Regions from separate parts of the Homo sapiens genome. Here region 1 is linked to region 2. The links come from fine-mapping of genetic effects on gene expression. A gene starts in region 2. The other region holds a variant in brackets. All regions are shown on one strand. Distances are from middle to middle. Region 1 overlaps KIAA0319. Region 2 holds the start of KIAA0319.

Region 1 (8,343 bases), 62 kb after region 2:
TCATGAGGTCAGGAGATCGAGACCATCCTGGCTAACAGAGTGAAACCCCATCTCTACTAAAAATACAAAAAATTAGCCAGACGTGGTGGTGGGCGCCTGTAGTCCCAGCTACTTGGGAGGCTGAGGCAGGAGAATGGCATGAACCCGGGAGGCAAAGCTTGCAGTGAGCTGAGATCATGCCACTGCATTCTGTCCAGCCTGGGCGACAGAGTGAGATTCCGTCTCAAACCAAAAAAAAAGGAAAAAAAAGAAAATAGTGTGGAGTTGACTAGAGGCAACAAGATCCATGAAAAGGCTATGGTGAATGGTTGCAGAGATGGAGGGAAGGAACCAGATTTAGGAGACAGGAAGGGAGCAGAGTCACAAAGATTTGATAAGTGATTGAATGAATGTAAGGATGTGAAGGAAGAGGACGCTAAGACATATGAAAATACAGAACTAAAATTAGATGAGCAGTTGGGCTGAAGATAAAGGATTACGAGTCATCGGTGTGGAGGTGATAGTTGCAGACACGGGGGACATAGGAGATCATCCAGGGAGAGAGGGGGGTTAGCTGAGGAGAGGCCTGAGGACTGGAACTTTGGGGACATTGTTCTATAAGGAGCTGGAAGTGCAGAAGGAGCCTGCAAAACTGATTGGGTAGTTGTGCCAGAGAGGTAGGAGATAAAGAGGAAAGCTAGAGGGAGAGAGTTCTATGGAGGAGGATAGAATAAGTTTCCATCTACCCTTCTAAGTTCTAGGCTAGTGCCCCTGTAACAAAAGATAGATTAACAAGAGAGAAAAAAAAAACAAGTTTATAACATGTACATCTTACCTATACGTGGGAGATGCCCAGGGAAATGAGGAAATCTCAGAGAGGTTTATTATATAAGCTTATATTATATAAGCCTGGAACTCTGGCTTATATAGCATCTTGAACTAAAACAAGGAAAGAGGATTGTGGGGAAGGCAAGTGGCCAAAGGTGCCCAGAATAAACGAAGTAAGCAAGAGTGAGGTTCATTATGCAGATTTGTCAGGACCTTCTCTATGGATGTGGATCTCTTGGAATGTAGTCACCCTTCTCTTCCTGGTATAGAAGGAGAGAGACCCTTACAAATGGAGATTTCCTTTATAGATATAAATTCCCCTTACAAAGGAGTAACTTCTACTCTGTTTTCAGAGCTCCTCTTGGTCTGCTGTTTCTTCAAAACAAACAAACAAACAAACAAAAAACACAGCTCAAAATAATCCTTGTATAAAAGAGTTATAGTTGCAATGGCATATTCTAGTTTCCTACAGTCTGTGAACCAAAAGTATCTGAGACAGGTCTCAATCAATTTAGAAAGTTTATTTTGCCAAGGTTAAGGACTCACCAGTGACACAGCCTCAGGAGGTCCTGATGACATGTATCCAAGGTGGTCAGGGTACAGCTTGTTTTTTTTTGTTTGTTTTGAGACGGAGTCTTGCTTCGTGGCCAGGCTGGAGTGCAGTGGCGTGACCTTGGCTCACTGCAACCTCTGCCTCCGAGGTTCAAGAGATTCTCCTGCCTCAGCTTCCTGAGTAACTGGGATTACAGGCACCCATGACCATTCCCGGCTAATTTTTGTATTTTTAGTAGAGACAGGGTTTCTCCGTGTTGGCCAGCCTGGTCTTGAACTTCTGACTTCAAGTGATCCACCTGCCTCAGCCTCCCAAAGTACTGGGATTACAGGTGTGAGCCACTGTGCCTGGCCACCTTGGTTTTATACATTTTAGGGAGACATAAGACATCAATCAGTATGTGTGAGATGTACATTGGTTTGGTCCAGAAAGGCATGACAACTGGAAGGGGGTCTTTCAGGTCATAGGTATATAAGAGACAAATATTGCATTCTTTTGAGTCTTTGATCAGTCTTTCACTGAATACACAATTTACTTGCCAGAGGGGGTAGAGGAATAGTCACTTATGCCTTGTCTGGCTCAGTGAATCTGTATTTTTTCATAAACAATAGGGCAGAGGAAACAATTAGATATGCATTTGTCTCAGGTGAGCAGAGGGATGGCTGAGCTCTTTCCCCCACCCCCTGCACCTGTGAAGATAAGCTATTGATTTACATTGCCAGGGTGAAATTCAACAAAACTGTTTTAGGGCAAAGATCTTGAGGCCCACAAGGAGTTTCTTGTGGGCAAATTATAAGGAAGGCATGTAGCTTTTTTTTTTTTTAATCTTTGTAGGTATCTCGTTTAGGAATAAAATGAGATGCGGGTTTGCCTGACACAGTTCCCAGCTTGACTTTTCCCTTTGGCTTAGTGATTTGGGGGTCCCGAGATTTATTTCCCTTTCACAAATCATATTTTGGGGTGGCATGTTCTGGTCTCCTGTAGTTCCAAAAGGGAAGACGTATCAAAGCTCCATGTGTCGCAGAGGCTGTGGTGAGGATTGCAAAGCTTCCATTAGATTTTCCAATAAGGAAGTTATTAGAATATGCTAGACGTAAGGGTCATGTTTCCTGAGCTTTTCTGTGGGCCATGTATTTTGGAGATTACTCTCTCTAACTTTTGTATTTACTTTGAGCCTGAGCTTCCATAGAGAGAAAGATAATAGTGGGAGAGAAGCTGTGTAGTATACGGAAAAAGAAACTGGCCTGGGAGTTTGGCCCAGGATCTTTGGGTTTTAATAGAACCTACTGCATACAGTTGTAATGAGGATTAAATGAATTGATCATTTTAAAGCCCTTGGGGCAATGCCTGGCACAGTTTAATCCGGTATATAAGTGTTTGTTGAAATGAATACATTTAAATTAAATATTGGTGGACCTATTGCTAATTACCATACAGCCTTGGACAACTTTGCTTTTCTAGGATTTAATTTCCCCACCTATAACATGATAGGTTTGGATCAATGTCCCTTCTAGGTCTACAGTTGCTGACTTTCAGGATAAAGAGTTAGTGAAAATGACAAGAGAGGAGCCAGCAAAGCCACTGAGAGCCTCTGCAGCTGATCTAGGAGGCACTCGAGGGACTGAGGACTGAGAGGAGGGGAGTGGATTAAATGAACAACCTGTCTGACATCTCCTTGCAGCTGATCCCTCTGGAGCACTCAGCTTTTTTTTTTTTTTTTTTTTTTTTAAATCTTTGCTTTTCTCTGTGTAGTATCTGGACATATCGCAATATATTTTACAAGTGAAACTAATGTCCAATGGAGCCAAACCGATAGAATTTATGAATATATCAATGTAATCTGGTTACAGAGAAAGTAAACAAGTATTGTTCTGAATGCTTACTTGGTGGCTAAGCACTTTTGATAAGAGTTAATGTTCCTGCTGCTTAAGTTAAAATAGGTTTTTTATATTGAGGGTGACTGGATTTTGTCTTGGAAAGGTTCCAAGTACAAGGCCATTAGCAGTAATTCATGAGGCTACTATCAGAACTGAGTGGAGTGTGACTAATGAGACAGAAACACTTAGGATTACACTCAATCTTTTTATAACTAAAAATAGCTCACACCAGGGCGTCAAGAAAAGCTGATAGCAAGGGAGAAAATGGACCCAATTCACAGTTGCATGAAACCTGTTTCACGCAACTCTTGTCACTCAATACGTTGCTCAGTCAATTTGAATCATTATTTTTGTCACAGTGCCAACTCATATTTGTGGTTTAAAACCCTGTACTATAATATAGTGTACAGTTCAATTTCTAGCCAGAGGAAAAACGTGCCTTAGCTAAAATCTTATGAAGAACTATTACAAAAGCATATGTTATTTTAATTTATGGATACCAAAAACAGATCTAGTGTAGAGCAGTAATGTAACACATTATATTATATAATTGCACGTATTATTTCTAATTAACTTTTAGTGAAAGAACTTACGGTATCGGCTGGAGATAACCTAATTATAACTTTACCCGACAATGAAGTTGAACTGAAGGCCTTTGTTGCGCCAGCGCCACCTGTAGGTGAGAGTTTAACCTTCCTCCCTGACC[A/T]CTAGGAACTGGGGTGTTTTTCTTCAGCAGGTCCTTACAGGCTATTTACAACGCCGATTCTTTTTCACAGTATTGCACGACGTCACAAACAAAGGTGGAGGACAAGGCTTTGATTATTCTTAAGCATCAACATTTGTTGAAATAGTTTCAAATGGAGTAAGAATCTAGGAAATTAAATACAGTATATATCGTTTAATTGGTCAGGATGGAAAGTCATAAATTTCTGATGATGCAAAGCAGATCAGGAGAGGCTGCCACGTACCAGTTCTTGAACTGTAATAACCCATAGAACCTGGGAAGATTCCACCGGGATGAGAGGGAAGTGGCGTGCACCCATAGGTTTGTTTGCAGATACTGTGGCATTGACAATCACGGCTCTCAGGTTCTCAGGATGCCTCACACTAGCTGCTCAAAAAAATTTATTCAAAATGCTCTTTCTTCTACTTGTCCAGTGCTCTACCATTCAGTAAGCATTTGACCTGGGACCTGTGGCCTGTCAAATGCATTGTTTTTAAGGTAAACTCATTCTTAAGGTGTTTGACTATTTCTCATTCAGGTTAGTTCCTTAATTCATTTTTTTCTCCACCACATATTGGTCAAAATTTTATACACAGAGATGATAATATTTGGCATTTGCATTTTAATCCTTTGAGGTGAGGTACCTTATATTTTAACTACTAATATCTGCAGCTGGGAGACAGTTTCATCTTAACATAGACATGTTTATACTGTTTTTGTGTCCTTAAATAAACCCCTACAACAGATCAAATGAATTGAAATCTCCTTGCCTTTTGTTAAAAAGAGAAAAGCACAATGTATTATACTATGTTAAAACTGATATGGATAGTCAGATGTAGCCCCCTAGGAAAAAACTCATCACATACTAATGGTTAAGTTAGGGAGGTTTTTTTTTTTTTAACTTTATACATTTTAAAAATTTCCTGTAAGACGTATGTTTTTATAACAAAAAAAGAAATGTTACATTAAGAAGATACATGTTATCTTGGCTGATAGTTGAAAGTCAAGTTCATAAGATGATAACAAGAGTGAGGGGATAAAAACAAATAAACAAAAAATATATATATAAGTTAAAAAAAAAAAAGAAAGCTGAGTTGAGTATATCTAAGGTAATCTGCACTGGTGGTTTAAAGGCTGTCATCTTCCCTCTGCCCAGGTTATCTAGTGTCCTCTCAGAATTTATAACTACTCATATTTATTTTTTGCTCTCAGAAACAACCTACAACTATGAATGGAATTTAATAAGCCACCCCACAGACTACCAAGGTGAAATAAAACAAGGACACAAGCAAACTCTTAACCTCTCTCAAGTAAGTAACTGGAGACTGGTTGTGTCTAACAGCACAGCGTAACGGCATAGAGCTCAGTTAATACCTTCTTAGCTACTGAACCCAAACGTCTTTCTTCTTTTTGGGGACAGAGTCTTGCTCTGTTGCCCAGGCTGGAGTGCAGTAGCGCAATTACAGCTCACTGCAACCTCTGCCTCCCGGGTTCAAGTGATTCTCCTGCCTCAGCCTCCTGAGTAGCTGGGATTACAGGTGCACGTCACCACACCCGGCTAATTTTTTTGTATTTTTTGTAGAGGTGGGGTTTCGCCATGTTGGCCAGGCTGGTTTTGAATTCCTGACCTCAAGTGATCTGCCCTCCTTGGCCTCCCAAAGTGTTGGGATTACAGGCATGAGCCACCACGCCCAGCTGCAAACATCTTTCTCATGGTAAGATCAAAAGTAGGATATGAATGAATAAAGTTTCAGGCATGCAAGTAGGCAGGCAGATGGTTAAGAGGCTTTGGATGGCGTTTCTTTATTTGGGTTACTTAGTATATCTCAGTTTGGGGAAAAGAGCCTGGTTGTCCCACAAGCATTGCAGAGAGGTTAAAAACCTGTTGTAACTCTTGCTCTCCTTGCAGTGTTAAGGACATTCTACTTATCTCTGGTTCTCAGTCCGGCACATCTCTAGAGTTGCCAATAATTCCATTCCAGGTCACAATTTGCCCTATCACATATTGTTCTATGATACAAGCACTCACAAGAAACATGCCCTCTTTCTGGCCTAGGAGGATATATAAACCGACTTAGCGACTAGAGATCTAGTCTCCTACCAGATGATTATGTTGACTTCATCTCCTGGGACCACACAGCTAATGGTACAACACAGACTTGCATCACCCTCATGTCATGGAGCTGTGTTTCTCAAAGTGTGGCATCCAGACCACCGGCAACCAATGCACCAGAGCTAGGTGGTAAAAATGCATGGTTCCATACACACATTTGAGAACTGCTGCCCTCTGCTGGTCCATCTCACCCAGGCCTCTTTGAAGCCCTCTGCAGCGAAGCTAAAGGCCTGTCTAGGTGATCTTTAGTGCTCCAGAATTCAGGCTTCAAACATGCGGCAGCCTCTTGACAGATCCAAATGAGACTGTCTCCTGAGCCCCTTCTCTATGCTGACTTTAGGAGTGCGGCTTCTGGGACATTTTAGCTTTTTCTACGTAGTGGACCCATCACGTCTTGCATGTTGAACTGTACAACTTTTCTTTATGTTACAGTTGTCCGTCGGACTTTATGTCTTCAAAGTCACTGTTTCTAGTGAAAACGCCTTTGGAGAAGGATTTGTCAATGTCACTGTTAAGCCTGGTAAGCCGGTGTAAGAGAATGACCTCCTGTTGTACATATTTATCTCAATTTTTGGTGCCTGGATGACTCTATATCTGTCTACCTATCTACCTAGAGAGACAAAACCTATTTTGTATTAGGCTCCATTGTAGAGAAAACACGCAAAGATTATATTTTTGGTTTTTTTTTCTACCTTTCGCATAACACTTTGTACTTGCTTGACAAGGTTATTGCTGGCTGCTCTCGAATGGTGGCAAATCTACCTTAGCCCTCTCTATCTGACATTTACACCATCCACTCTAACTTCTACCTCCACTCTCCGTGATTCAGCTTCACCTTCGAAGCAGGGGCATGTTGAATACATTCAACTGAGCAACCAAGAGGTCAGGGGAAAATGTATGCCCATCGGTCAGTGCATTCATGTGAATTAGAAACAGGTGGTTCTTGGGCTGGGTGGGCACAGCCCTGGCTTGGTGAGTAGAACATGGGCTGGCTTTCAGCCTCCACCAACCCCTCACCTGTGCTGAGGGCACAACCGACCCAATCAAGGTGAACCTCCCTTGTACCCACTTCAGCCCACCCTGAGGGCCTGACAGCTCTATCTTTTGCATATGGTTATGGGGGGTGGGGGGGGGAGTTGCCTTCAGTTAGAGATATAAGATCCACTCAATCCAAGGAGCTGGAACTGTAATCCCTTCATCCCTTGCTCCTGCTCTGTAATTACTGCTCACATTCTGTGATGAGCCCCTTGGTTATTATTGTACATCTTCACTGAGCCTGGGCTTACATGCAAAAGTGTAAATGTCCAGACAAGCTCCTGAAATTCATAGAGAGACTCCAGACTTTAAAAAGTGCTCTCCATAGTTGAGGCCTGTAGGATAAACACCTTCTTGACAGGACATGTATAATCAATTTTTTAAAGTAGATGATTTTATGTGGGTAATGACATATGCCTACACAAGATGGGCTCAGTCACTGTCCTTTTTTTTGTTACAGCCAGAAGAGTCAACCTGCCACCTGTAGCAGTTGTTTCTCCCCAACTGCAAGAGCTCACTTTGCCTTTGACGTCAGCCCTCATTGATGGCAGCCGTGTGTATCCTGAGATAGTTTAGGGATTTCTTTTTTTCTCTACGTGCTACGAAATGTAATGAGTGCTCTGCATCAAAGCTAGGAGGACTTATGGGCTGTTACTTTGATAAACGATCACCTCCTTCTTTAGTTTTATGTCTTCTTTAGTTCCTTTAGCTCCTCTATCCTGTGCTTATTTTCCCTTCACCTTTCGTCTATTCTATTAGAAAGTTCTTTAGCGCCTGGCCATTTGATAGGGAATTAGAGCAATTATTGAAGAATCTCCTTCTGGTGTGGTATATATGGTTAGCAGTTGGAAAATCACTTTGTGTATATATATATGTATATATATATAAGATATATAAGATATATATGAGATATATAAGATATATGAGATATATAAGATATATATATGAGATATATAAGATATATATGAGATATATAAGATATATATATATATATATATCTTTATATAGAGGAGCTCCCGTGACCTGACTTGGGAGGGGAGGTGCCCCCCACCAGATGGGAAAATCACTTTTAAGAACTCTTAGAAGGGATGTCTTCAGTGAGGGAGCGTGGTGGTTTTTTAAAATTCATTCAGAGATCGTTTCTTCTATGGGAGTATATGTGGAAGGGGCCCCTGTGTTAACTACAGGTGTCCATGTAAATAAGAATAGGTTGAAAACATCCTGTGGTTGACTA
Region 2 (8,343 bases):
AATTTTATTTGTTTATGGTTTGTTTTAGTATGTTTTTGTGTCCATGATGAGATTAAATTTTTTATCTGCTTCCTGCTTCTGGCTCTACTGCTGCTTCTTCCTCTTTGTGTAGAAGAAAACAGATTTCCATTTGCTTCTCACTCCACCAAGAATTACCAAGAATATATCTGCTTCCTTTGTCTGAAAAAAAGCCAGCGAGAATAATTAGAAGTAATAGAATCTTATTTATATCAGGAGTGCCAAAATTTAAACACCTAAAAAAAGATATTTATATATAATATTCCCTTTGTAGTGACAACGAAAAAGTTTAAATGTTAATCATAATTTTAATCATTAAAAATAAAAAATGAGGGCCGGGTGCAGTGGCTCACACCTGTAATCCCAGCACTTTGGGAGGCTGAGGCGGGTGGATCACGAGGTCAGGAGATCGAGACCATCCTGGCTAACACGGTGAAACCCTGTCTCTACTAAAAATACAAAAAATTAGCCGGACGTGATGGCGAGTGCTTGTAGTCCCAGCTACTCAGGAGGCTGAGGCAGGAGAATGGCACGAACCCAGGAAGCAGAACTTGCAGTGAGCCAAGATCGTGCCACTGCACTCCAGCCTGGGCAACAGAGTGAGACTCCATCTCAAAAATAAAATAAAAAATGAGAATAGATGTTAATAGTAGAGTAGCATACATCATAGAGGTAATACAATAGTACATTTCTGTGGGAAAAGGGTTATTCTGGCATAAATTGCTTTCATTTAGAAGAGCTAAGTTAGAACTTCAGATCACATTGCAAAACATAGATGGGTGAAAGTCTAAATTCTTAAAAAAAAAATACAGTGTAGTATACTAGATTAAATAAAGGATTATCGGCTGGGTGCAGTGGCTCATGCCTGTAATCCCAGCACTTTGGGAGGCCGAGGCAGGTGGATCACCTGAGGTCAGAAGTTCAAGACTCGTCTAGCCAACATGGTGAAACCCCATCTCTACTAAAAATACAAAAATTAGCCAGGCGTGGTGACACGTGCCTGTAATCCAAGCTACTCAGGAGGCTGAGGCAGGAGAATCACTTGACCCTGGGAGGCGGAGGTTGCAGTAAGCCGAGATCGTGCCACTGCACTCCAGCCTGGGCGACAGAGCAAGACTGTCTCAAAAAAAACCACTTTTAGTCTGCTTTCATGAGCAATAGTTATCAATGAATTAACCTACTAATTTGCTATATCTTGAGTTTTTTACTTGGAATTTTTCAAAGTTTTTCCAGTGTAGTAGCTTTGCTTGCCTTACCTTCCTGCTTAGTGAAATTCCAACATAGAATCTTCTGGGTTTTTTTTTTTTTTTTTTTCAGTCTCAACCTCCTGGGCACAAGTGATCCTCTAGCCTCAGACTCTTGGGTAGCTGGGATTACAGGTGTGCACCACACACCCAGCTACTTTTTATTTGTTTTTGTTTTTTGTACAGAGAGGATCTTGCTATGTTGCCCAGGCTGGCCTCGAACTCCGGGGCTCACTCAATCCTCCTGCCTCGCCCACAAAGTGCTGGGATTATAGGCATGAGCCACTGTACGTGGCCTAAAGTCTTGTATTTCAATGAGGCAGCACTGTCATTACGCTAAGCACCATTTTTACCACTGATGTGGAATGTACTTTAACCTTCCTAAACCTCAGTTTTACCCACCCTCAAAATAAGTTATCTTTTATTGTACAAATGTCCCAACCAAAAGCATAAGCAAGAGCAGACAAAGTTAATTATACTAAGGATACATCATTTTATCCTTACTACCTCTTGCAGTGTCTGGCATATAGTAGGAGCTCAATGGATGTCCACTGAATGCTGAAAAGAAGTGAAAGGTAGTAGCCTCACATCTGTGTCCTAAAGAAGGAGACTAACATTTTCATACAATACCAAAATAGATATATTCATTAAAAATGAAAATAGATATTCATTACAGTGTCTCTGAGTTAAAAAGATGGTATAGTTAAACATTCTGGGCTAAGCCTGTGTGTGTGTGTATGTGCTAAAAATATGTTTCTTTAAAGGCTAATCAGCCAAGGATCGTTGGGGACAAAATCAGATTCATTGGCTTGATGCATTGAAAGAGTACCTGTGGAATGCCATGTGAGCACAGAAAGGAGGAAGTGTCTTTTGTAAAGATTTGGCTTCCTATTAAAGGATTCCAGGGAGAGTCTTGGAATCAGAGCTGGGATCCAGTTGGTTGCTGTTTCTGAGGCAGATTGAGAGAAAGGGGGATTAATGAGGGATTGGGTGCTGTCAGGAGGTGAAGGGAGTTTAGCAATTGGGTATCCCCAGTTATGGATGGGAATAGTAAAGCAAAGGTAGAAAGTAGTAGTCATTCAAAAATGGAACACAAGGAGTTGTGTTGTTTTGTACCTGCTGCGTGACTTCAGAGGAAACAACATTGCCTGTTAATTTTGCTTCTGACTTTGTCCTCTCAGCCTGATCATTGATCATTGGCAGTACTAACTTTTCCAAGTCCAAGCTGATTTTCACTCTTTGAGTCCTGGACAGGTTTTTACTCTTTAGTTTTTATTTATTTATTTATTTATTTATTTATTTATTTATTTATTTATTTATTTATTTTGAGACGGAGTCTTGCTCTGTCGCCCAGGCTGGAGTGCAGTGGCACGATCTCGGCTCACTGCAACCTCCGCCTCCTGGATTCAAGCGATTCTCCTGCCTCAGCCTCTCAAGTAGCTGGAACTACAGGCGCGGGCCACCACTCCCGGTTAATTTTTTGTATTTTTAGTAGAGACGGGGGTTTCACCGTGTTAGCCAGAATGGTCTCGATCTCCTGACCTCGTGATCCGCCCGCCTCGGCCTGCCAAAGTGCTAGGATTACAGGCGTGAGCCACCGCACCCAGCTGGTTTTTACTCTTTAAATGTGCATTATCTTATTTGATTCCCAGAATCATCCTATATGAATGCTATTATCTTCATTTTATAATTGAGGAAACAGGTTTATCTAGATTAGGTAACTTGTCTGAGGCTCTTCGGTAAATACGAGTAGCCAAGAAGCTTATTCATCAACAGTGTGTGACTCAGCCCTAAGCACTGCACTTATACCTCCTAGTAATGAGATGTGCGAGGAATGCCCTGGCTACCTTTTCTGCTCATGATATTATCCCTAGATGCTTTCGCATCTTTATTAAAACAGTAAAAATGCAAGAGTCTTCCACCCAAGTTTTCTGTGGTTTAGATTATCACGTTCCTCAAGATGCAAATGTCAAACTATACTGGGCATCCAGTTAACCTGCAAGGCCTGGAGGTGATGGGAGCCCCTCCTAGCACAGGTTCCCAGTCTCAGTCAGAAAGCACCTGCTCAAAATAGAAAGATAATTACAGAGTAGGGGCCAAAGAGACTCCCACTGGAAGAATGGAACTTGTGTAGCTGGGGTGACACAAGCTGGGGACAAGCTGGGGGACACATTCGCGAAGGGTGTTTGACCCAGGCAGTGCACCCACGGCTCCCTTGAGCCACCCTGGCCCGGGTGTTTATTTGGAAGGAGTGTTCATCCCCCAGACTGTTTAGGGCCACGGTGACAGGGAAGGGCTTGGTGAAGGAAAGCAGGTAGGGTATGAAGGCCGCTCAGGTTCACGAAAGACTTTTGCTTGGTCCCCTGCGGGGTGGGAGTGTGTCGCCCCGGTGCGGGTACTTAGAGCGCAACCGGGGAGCTGAGCAGGGGAGCTGAGCAGGGGAGCTGGGCAGGGGCGGCTGCCGCGCCCCACATCCCTGAGGGCGTGTGTGCGCGTGCGCGCGCGTCGCCGTGGTAACCGCGGCGGCGGAAAGGCGCTGAATCACTGGCGCGCGCTTTCCCCGAGCCTGCAGAAGCTGCCGCGGGCGGTGGGCGGGGATCCCCCGGGGGTGCAACCTTGCTCCACCTGTGCTGCCCTCGGCGGGCCTGGCTGGCCCCGCGCAGAGCGGCGGCGGCGCTCGCTGTCACTGCCGGAGGTGAGAGCGCAGCAGTAGCTTCAGCCTGTCTTGGGCTTGGTCCAGATTCGCTCCTCTGGGGCTACGTCCCGGGGAAGAGGAAGCGAGGATTTTGCTGGGGTGGGGCTGTACCTCTTAACAGCAGGTGCGCGCGCGAGGGTGTGAACGTGTGTGTGTGTGTGTGTGTGTGTGTGTGTGTGTGTGTGTGTGTGTGTAAGACCTGCGATGACGACGAGGAGGAACAAGTGGGACGGCGAGTGATGCTCAGGGCCAGCAGCAACGCATGGGGCGAGCTTCAGTGTCGCCAGCAGTGACCACAGGTACGGTATCTACTTCCCAGAGCGCCTGGCCGAGAAATAGGAAAGAGGGCAGCCAGTAGGCAGGCCAATACCCAACAAAAGTAGAATCGAGACGCCCTGAGTTCAGAAGGTGAGTTTCTTAAGATTCTTCTGGGCATTCAGGAAAGGGCATTTTTTGATTGCTGCACTGATTGTTGACTAGTAGGGTGGAGTCGGGGAAATTTGAGTGTCTTTTCCCAACCTCACGAATTGCATTTTTTTAGAAGTAAGGAATCGTTTTCTTTAAACTTCATTCAGAACTATTTATGTGATCTTTCCTATTATTTGCTAAATGCATTTTGTCTCTGTTCCTTACCATAACCTGAAGCTTAAAATCTTTCTCTTCTTCCCTTTGAATTCCCTCCAAGGAATGTCACAAATTAATCGGGAGGATAAACCTGAAATTTTGAGAGTTATCATCTTAAGGTCATTTGTTAATTAAATACAAGGAGGAAAAATATGATATACATACTCATGTGCACTTTTATTGCTGGTTTGTTCATCAAAACATTTTTGTTTGTCGGTGAAATGTTAGTATTTTTTCCACTGCTTGAATTGAAAAGTTGAATGATGTTTTTGATAGTAACAGAAAAAATAAATTGTAGACAATGTTCCCCCCCACACACAAGAATTTTGGAAGTAAATGTTGGTATTTATTTCTTTATTCCTGAAATACATGCTCACTTTCCAAATGCTTCAATTTATTATAAGAAGACCACAATTGTAGAGACTACTAAAGTTATGCCAAATCTAAACTTTTATTTTGTGCTTTTTTTAGTATTATTTTTAATTCAGATGAGGAAAACTGGAGGTGTCAGTTCAGTTATAGACGTAGGAGTCACAGAGAAAGGTGAATTCCTCTGTAATTTGAAAAAGGGAAATGTAAACATATTACCTAAGTACTCTGATTTATTTGTATTAACCATTTGTAATGCATTTGCATTTGTAATGCAAAATGCCGAGGCAAGAACTTAATTTTTGTTTCGAAATAATGAAAATAATTCAGCCAAAATCTTTATGAATTAAAAATAGCCAAAAGAGAGCTTTGGTAATGTATGAATGTAAAAGAATAGAGTTGCTGTTAAATTTTCTTGACTTTTTTTTTTTCCCTAGCCAATAGATAGGAAGCATTCTCTTTAAATAAATACAGTAAGTCCTCACTTAACATTCTTGATACGTTCTTGGAAACTGTGAACCTTTAAGCACAACGAGGTATAAGGAAACCAATTTTACCACAGGCTAATTGATATAAACAAGAGTTAAGTTCCTACAGCATATTTCTGGTCATAAAAAAATCACCAAACTTCTAAATAAAGACCACAACACTTCTAATATTAAACATAGAAATAAATGGGATCTATACATACAGTTAAGAAGGATTAGTAAAAACAAGATCATTATTTACCCAATTATTACAGTTCAAGGTCATGGGTAGCCAGAGTCTCCCTGGTTCAGAGTGGGAACCCCCCCCTCTCCCCTGTCCAGGAAGCTATCCCATCACAGGGTGCACTTTCACAGACACACCCACTCACTCAGACGGGGACCATGTAGACATATGCACAGCTTTGGGATGTGAAGGAAACCGAAGCCCAGAGAAAACCCACGCAGACATGAGGAGAATGAGCAGACTCCACATAGACAGTGGCCCTGGCCAGGAATTTTTTTGTCACCAACGTTGAATGAAACTATGTTATTGAGGCACTGCTGTATGTAGAGCCAGGTATGCCCGTTTCTGGAACGGAGTGCTGCAGATTGCCAGGTCAGAGGGTGTGGGTTTGGGCGTGGCTCTGCCACTTAGTGGCTGTCTCACATTTGGCAAATTCTCTAAACCCTCTAAGGCTCAGTTTCCTCACCTGTAAAATAGAGATAACAATGGGACCTACTTAACGAAATTCCTGTAAGAATTAAATACAATAATATGTTTAAGAGATCTTTGCTCATTGCCTGGCATGTTTTAATAGTAACGCTTCAATAAGTGTTGTTATTTTTGAGATGTGTTCTTTTTCAGGAAATATTTTTCATACCTTAAAAATAATTTGGTACTAAAAAATAGATTTATTTTGACATGTCCAAAGCTTGTTCTGATTTATGATATCAAATCATCATAAAATGCATAAATTTTTCCTTGCAGCACCTTTATAACAGCAACAATAATAAATATAATAATCAAAATCATAAAATCATGTCAATTTAATATTCTGGTAGCTTAATACCCCCAAGGAAGGAGCTTTGCTTTAGTAGGCCTAGAATAATTGGTAGGTTATTTTTCTATTTGTTTTTAAAATTTTTTTTATAGATTTAGAGTGTACAAGTGCAGTTTTGTTATGTGGATATATTGTGTAGTGTCAAAGTCTGGGCTTTTAGTGTACCCATTACCCGAATAGTGTAGGTTATTTTTCTATTTGTCTTTAAAAATCTGTACCTTTAGACACTATTCATGTGAATTCAATAATAAGAAAATATTTTCTCATTTATTTGTATTAAACAATAAAAATGGTTGAGCCAGAGTAACATCTGGCATCATCATTTTGCAGGGTCTTTTAACAGTAGGTGTTTAAGTTTTAAAGTAGAGCTGCTTAAATGACACCAGTAGGTAAAGATAATAGTGTTCAAGTTTTAGTTATTTTTCCTTCTAAATAATATTGTAGAATTATCCTGCCTGCCAACTTGCTGGTCATTCTTTTCCTTAAGTTCAAAAAAGCAAAGGAGGCTGGGAACGCGGTGGCTCATGCCTATAATCCCAGCACTTTGGGAGTCCGAAATGGACGGATCACCTGAGGTCAGGAGTTCGAGACCAGCCTGGCCAACATGGTGAAACCCCATCTCTACTAAAAATACAAAAATTAGCCAGGCATAGTGGTGGGCGCCTGTAATCCCAGCTGAGGCAGGCGAATCACTTGAACTCCGGGAGGCGGAGGTTGCGGTGAGCCCAGATTGCCTCACTGCACTCCAGCCTGGGCCACAGAGCAAGACTCTAATTCAAAAAAAAAAAAAATGCAGCAAAGGATTATAGTAAGCATCTATTTAATTTAAGCAATGTAGCTTGAATAAGAGGATAATTCAGGCCTAAAAATGAATTTTCAAAGTTGGGGTCATTCCATGCTATTAAGCATCAGAATATAAGCATGGAGGGTAAATTAACTCCAGCGTTGCCACCCATAACACCCATACATTTTAAGCATTACAGTTGATAGGATGTTTATTCATGTGATGATGGGGAAGTATGGGCTGTCCCTTCCCAGGATCACAATCCTGTTCTGTTATTCTAAGATTGTGATTATGTCAGCATACCTTACCATCTTTTGTTTTCATCATTAAGATGAAGTACATGATGTGTAGCTGCACTGTCTTGTAATCATTGTAACAGAGTTACCTTCAAAATTTTTTCAAAATAACCCTTTAAAATGTCTTTCTTTTCTTTTCTTCTTTCTTTCTTTCTCTCTCTCCTTCCTTCCTTCCCTTTCTTTCTTTTCTTTTTTTCTTTCTCTTTCTTTCCTTCCTTCCTTTCCTTCTTTCTCTTTCTTTCTCTCTTTCTTTCTTTCCCTTACTTCCCTCCCTCCCTCCCTCCTTCCCTCCCCTTCCCCTCCCTACTCCTTCCTTCCTTCTTTCCCTTCCCTTCCCTTCCTTTCTTCTTTCTCTCTCTCCTTCCTCCCCTCCCCTCCCCTCCCCTTCCTTTCTCTCCCCTCCCCTCCCCTTCTCTTTCTGACACGGTCTTGCTCTGTCACCCAGGCTGAAGTACAGTGCCACGATCTTGGCTCACTGCAGCCTCTGCCTCCTCCCACCTCAGCCTCCTGAGTAACTGAGACTACAGGCGCATACCACCAAGCCCAACTAATTGTTATAGTTTTTATAGAGACAAGATCTTGCCATGTTGCCCCGACTGGTTTTGAACTCCTGGGCGCAAGTGACCTGCTCACCTCCGCCTCCCAAAGTGCTGGGATTACAGTCATCAGCCACCATACAAGGCCTAAGATGTCTCATTTTCAAGAAAACTGTTTTTACCATCTCTCTCAGTATATTTGTATTGCTTAAGAGGCTAAAATATTTTGTTAATTTGGTGTCTTCAACC

Evidence for each region.
Region 1: its variant is fine-mapped to the expression of KIAA0319 in testis (GTEx, PIP above 0.99).

What each region holds. Positions count from the first base shown.
Region 1 is chr6:24,579,177-24,587,519 of GRCh38, reverse strand. KIAA0319 reads left to right here. Exons shown (of 21, transcript NM_014809.4): 5 at 3,818-3,916; 6 at 5,174-5,271; 7 at 6,507-6,594; 8 at 7,570-7,662. Among named protein-coding and RNA genes, the nearest start is that of KIAA0319, 63 kb to the left of the region's middle. The variant A/T (reference allele first, on the strand shown) is at 3,944.
Region 2 is chr6:24,641,649-24,649,991 of GRCh38, reverse strand. KIAA0319 reads left to right here and starts at 3,801. Exons shown (of 21, transcript NM_014809.4): 1 at 3,801-4,256. It overlaps TDP2 (tyrosyl-DNA phosphodiesterase 2), which reads left to right. Exons shown (of 7, transcript NM_016614.3): 7 at 1-13. RefSeq lists a silencer at 3,747-3,956.